Homo sapiens: one gene and its partner. The protein of the gene in region 1 interacts with the protein of each later gene in a pairwise test. Each region holds a gene or a part of one and is shown on either strand. Other genes may lie near its edges.

The links. The genes of interacting proteins can lie anywhere in the genome.
Region 2: the proteins of DCDC2B (region 1) and FHL5 interact in binary tests that used the Homo sapiens proteins (3 or more experiments, as listed by UniProt).

What each region holds. Positions count from the first base shown.
Region 1 is NC_000001.11:32,212,089-32,214,390, forward strand, and holds part of DCDC2B (doublecortin domain-containing protein 2B), read left to right. Parts: coding exon 1-113; intron 114-401; coding exon 402-548; intron 549-665; coding exon 666-705; intron 706-2,302.
Region 2 is NC_000006.12:96,569,628-96,573,127, reverse strand, and holds part of FHL5 (four and a half LIM domains protein 5), read right to left. Parts: intron 1-3,500. UniProt on the Homo sapiens protein: May be involved in the regulation of spermatogenesis. Stimulates CREM transcriptional activity in a phosphorylation-independent manner.

The DNA.
Region 1 (2,302 bases):
CTGGTAAGTCCCCCATTTAGTCTGAAGCTGTCCCAGGCTGCCAGCCAGGACTGGGAAACTGTGTTGAAGCTCCTGACTGAGAAGGTCAAGTTGCAGAGTGGGGCTGTGTGCAAGTGAGTATGGGGACTGCGAGGGCCCAAAAGTCCCCAAAGAGAGCCTCGCCACTGGCTTCAGCTGTGGCTGAGGATGAAGAGGCAAAAGGAAAGCATGTTCCCCCACATGGGACTTCCCCCTATGCCACTGGGAGAGGGCCCTCTGCCCAGCCCTCAGAGGCAGGGTAGAGCCTGGGTGCCTAGAGGCCAGAGGGCACCTTGGAATAGCTGCACCCACCCCTTCAGTCTGCTGAATGTGAAGAAGCATCGAGTCTACCAGCCCTTATCCTCCTCACCTCTCTCTCCCAGACTCTGCACCCTAGAGGGGCTCCCACTGTCAGCAGGGAAGGAGCTGGTAACTGGCCATTACTATGTGGCTGTCGGAGAGGATGAGTTCAAGGACCTTCCCTATCTGGAGCTGCTGGTGCCCAGCCCCTCCCTGCCCAGGGGCTGCTGGTATGTATGTGGGAGGTGGAGCGGTAACAGGCCGGGCAGAGGAAGCCACCCTCTGGGTCTGTGTGCTTTGACTCTATGCCCTCTGCCCACTACAAGCCTTTCCTTTTGTCATTGTAGGCAACCTCCAGGCTCGAAGTCTAGGCCCCACAGGCAGGGGGTAGGTGACGCAGGGGACAATGAGGGGTGGGAAGAAGGGGAGTGACTGGCTGACAACTCTTCTGGCACAGGCTCTGACCTTATTTCACTGCATCCTCTCTTTTTTCTTTTTCTTTGAGACAGAGTCTTGCTCTGTAGTCCAGGCTGGAGTGCAGTGGCAGGATCTTGGCTCACTGCAACCTCCGCCTCCCAGGTCCCGGTTCAAGCAATTCTCCTGCCTCAGCCTCCTGAGTAGCTGGGATTATGGGCACGCTCCACCATATCCAGCTAATTTTGTATATTTTTAGTAGAGATGGGGTTTCACCATGTTGGCCAGGCTGGTCTTGAACTCCTGACCTTGTGATCTGCCCGCCTCAGCCTCCCAAAGTGCTGGGATTACAGGCGTGAGCCACCGTGCCCGGCCTCCTTTTTTCTTTTAAATATAGAGATGAGTCTCACGATATTGCGAAGGCTGGTCTTGAACTCCTGGGCTCAAGCAATCCTCCCACCTTGGCCTCCCAAAGTGCTGTGATTACACTATGCCCAGCCTGCATCCTCTTAATAATTTTTTTTTTTTTTTTTGAGACGGAGTTTCACTCTTGTTGCTCAGGCTGGAGTGCAATAGCACAATCTCAGCTCACTGCAACCTCCACCTTCTGGGTTCAAGTGATTCTCCTGCCTCAGCCTCCCGAGTAGCTGGGATTACAGGTATGTGCCACCACACCCGGCTAATTTTTTTTTTTTTTTTTTTTTTTGAGATGGAGTCTCGCTCTGTTGCCCAGGCTGGAATGCAGTGGCGCAATCTTGGCTCACTGCCAGCTCCGCCTCCCGGGTTCATGCCATTCTCCTGCCTCAGCCTCCCGAGCAGCTGGGACTACAGGCACCCACCACCATGCCCGGTTAATTTTTTTTGTATTTTTAGTAGAGACGGGGTTTCACCGTGTTAGCCAGGATGGTCTCGATCTCCTGACCTCGTGATCAGCCCACCTCAGCCTCCCAAAGTGCTGGGATTACAGGCGTGAGCCACCGCGCTCAGCCACACCCGGCTAATTTTTTTAATTTTTAGTAGAGACAGGGTTTCTCCATGTTGGTCAGGCTGGTCTCAAACTCCCTCAGGTGATCTGCCCACCTCAGCCTCCCAAAGTGCTGGGATTACAGTCGTGAGCCACCTCGCCTGGCCACTCTTAATAATCTTGTGAAAGAAAGATTATCCCCATTTTCCAGAGGTGGAAACTGAAGCTGAAAAGTGAAGTGGGCCTTGGGCACGATGGCTCACACGTGTAATCCCAGCACTTTGGGAGGCTGAGGAGAGTGAATTACCTGAGGTCAGGAGTTCAAGACCAGCCTGGCCAACATGGTAAAACCCCATCTCTACTAAAAGTACAAAAAAATTAGCTGGGCATGGTGGTGGGTGCTTGTAGTCCCAGCTACTTGGGAGGCTGAGGCAGGAGAATCACTTGAACCTGGGAGGCGGAGGTTGTGGTGAGCTGAGATCACACCACTGCACTCCAGCCTGGGTGAGAGAGTAAGACTCAAGTCTCAAAAAAAAAAAAAAAAAAAAAAAAAGTGAAGTGATTTGTTCAGGGTGACAGAGTTATTGAGTGGCAGGGGCCAGACCA
Region 2 (3,500 bases), on another chromosome or scaffold:
AAATATGAATGAATGAATTACATGTATGTATGACTTTTTGGTACTGTCAAAGATAATAAATAGTTTGATACCTTGATCAGGAGAACGGTTAATCTTCTTTCTAAAAGTATTAAAGGTCAGAGAGATAGCAGCAAGATAGCCAACTAGAAGCCCCTAGTGCTTATGCCTCTGTCAAAGACAGCCAGAACAATGGAAAAGCAGCTGCATTTTAAAACTAATAGAAACTTGGGTGAGCACAAAAACTCAGGATGGCTACATAGAGAATAAGGAAATGCCAGGCCTTCACCATCCCATCCCCCAAGTGGGATCAGCTGGAAGCCAGGAGGAACTTCTTATGGTGAGGAGGTAAGCAGGATGACTCCAACAATCTCCATCAACACCCTGGACACCAACAGACCTTCCCACTGGTGTTCTCTGCAGTCTTCTTAGGCACCAAGCCCACATGGTGAAGCTGCCTGGAGTCTATATAGCTGTGCTTAGCCAGAGAAGGAGTTGACACTGTGCCCCACCTGCTGTGGCCCATGTGACTATTGGCTATGGCATCTTGGAACAGGAACTACAGCTAGACTGAGCCTTACTCAAGGAGTAAGTAGTCATGGCTCCCCTTCATCCCTGAGACTAAACCACCCCTGAACCACCCCATCCCCAGAGCCCCACATCCCCAATATGTGCTGTTAACAGCTGTTAACACTTTTTCCTGTGGGGTCAAGTGGAGGTGGAATTGCTCTACCAACTCCTCCCCCTGCCCCTGCTGAAGCAGCATCCTGTCTCTTGGGAAAACAGTACCTTGGCTATTCAGAGCAGTCATGTCTCCCTGGTGTCTAAGTTGAAGTGGTGCCCTGCATCCTAGGAAATTGTGCCTTGGCCATCCAGAGCAGTCATGCACTCCATTACTTAAGCTGAACTGATGCCCCGCATCCCAAGAAAACAGTGCTTGTGCAGCCCAGAACAGTCACATCCTTCAAGCCTGAGCTGAAGTGGCACATTGTCCCTTGGGGAATTAGTGCTCTGGCTGAGCTGAGCAGAAACTGAGCTGAGACACCTTGCTCTATAAACTGAACAATTTTAGACTTCGATTCCCCAGCACTGGCCTAGCTCTCTAGAGTCTCAGATGCAGAAGTACCCCTCTATCTAGGGAGTGGAGTCATTGCTGTGTTTTTTCCTACCCACCTGTCACCCAGGGAACAAACAACAGCTGTCCTCCACCATTCTGGAGTACTGAAAGCAAATACACTTGGCCCCACACATTCTGGGATACTGCTGAGCACCACTATCCCAGGGTCTACAATCACTACTACCCAGTGCCTCATCCCTTGGAACCTGAGTTGACACTGAGCCCTATTGACTCAGGTTTCTGAATTGCAGCCATACCCTGCTCCCAAGGCCAAAGTTCCAGAGCACTCCTTATTCCCTGGAGTCAGGCCAGTGCTGTGCCCTGCCCCCCAGGGGTAGAATCACAGCTACAACCTGGCACCCTGAGCCTGAGCTGCTAGGGGGTCCCTCAGAATCATAGATCCTGGCTCTATGGGTAACCTACATCCAACCCTGCCACAAGGGGTGAAGCTGCACCCCAAGCCCAGTTGCCTCAATAGCTTTATGAGATACTGAGCTGAAAACTCCTACTGCATGTAGAATCCTGATCACTGCACGTAGAACCCATGCCACTGCAGCTGCTTGTAGGCCATGTCAGACTTGACACCAAAAGGGATGCGCTCAGCTAAGTCTCCTTATTTTAGAGAAAACCAGAATAGGAGGACCCCAGAAGCCCTTAACACAAAGAACATTAAAAACTTATGTTGCCAGTGCCATTGCCACAAACCTCTAAGCGTAGGCTATGAGGCACCCACAGTTATTCCTGACCTTGAATACAACTGAAGAAGCTGCACAGAGACTCTATCTCTATACCTATCTGGAAACAGAGTCACTACACCTTTTCTAACTGCACAGTAAAACTCAACTGCAGGATGAAAGACTTTCTTTATGAAAATCACTCCAGAAAGTTTGAAAAAGGTGATTATTTCACTAGATACACAGACATCAATGCAGGGACACAAGAAACATGAAAAAGCAAGGAAATAAGAGACCAACAAAGGAATATAATAACTCTCTAGTAACAGACTCCAATTAAAAGGAAATCAATTAATTGCCAAAAAAATGTAAAATAATGATTGTAAGGAAACTCAATTAGATACAAGGAAACACAGATACACAATTAAATAAAATAAGAAAAAAATTCACAATATAAATGAAAAATTCAATAAAGAGATAAAAATCATAAAAAGAACAAAACAAGAATCCTGCAGTTGAAGAATTCAATGAATAAAATATAAAATACAATAGAGAGCTTCAGCAGCAGACTTGATCAAGCAGAAAAAAGAATCTCTGAACTTAAAGCTAGGTCTTTTGAAGTTACCCAGTCAGAGAAAAGAAAAAAGAAATAAGAATGAAAATGAGTGAAGAATTCCTATAAGACTTATTGGAAAACATTAAACAAACAGATATTTGTATTATGGAATTTCCAGAAGGAGAAGATAAGGAAAAAGTATAGAAAGCCTGTTTAATAAAATAATAACTGAAAACTTCCCAATTTAGTGGTGGGGGTTGTGGAGGAGGGATATTTGAACATCCAGCTCCAGGAAACTCAAAATTCCCCAAATAGATTCAACCCCAAAAAGGTCCTCTTAGAGGTACATTATAGGCAAATTGTCACAAGTCAAAGACAGAGAGTTCTAAAAACAGCAAGAGAAAATTGTCAAGTCACATAAGAGAACTGCATTAGACTAGTAAATTTTGCTACAGAAACCTCACAGGCGAGGAGAGAATAGAGTTATAAACTCAAAATGGTGAAAGAAGAAAAAAAATTGCTAGCTAAGAATACTATACCCAGCAAAGTTATCCTTCAGAAATTAGGAAGAAATAAAGCCTTCTCGAGGTAAGCAAAAACTGAAGGAATTTGTCACCACTCACCTGGCCTTACCAGAAATGCTTAAGTGATTTTCACTTACATCTGGAAGTGAAAATCACTGTCATGAAAACACACCAAAAGTATAAAGCTCATTGGTAGAGCAGATATATGAGGAGAAAGAGAAAAGAATCAAACCTTGTCACTACAGAAAACCACCAAACCACAATGATTAACTATAAGAGAAAAAGAAAGGAACAAAAGATATACAAGACAACAGGAAAACAACAAAATGGTGGATGTTAAGTCCTCACTTATCAATAATAACCTTGGCTGTAAACAGACTAAATTCCCAACTGAAAAGATATAGACTAGCTGAATGAATTAAAAAAAAAAAAGACCTAAGTATATGCTGCCTAAAAGAAACTCACTTCACCTAAAAAGACACATATAGAATAAAAATAAGGGATGGAAAAAAAATCCATACAAATGGAAACCAAAAGCAAGGGAGAATAGCTATACTTATATCAGGTAAAGCAGACTTTAAACAAAAAGAGACAAGGTTATTTTCACTTCAGCAAGAAGATGTAACAATTGT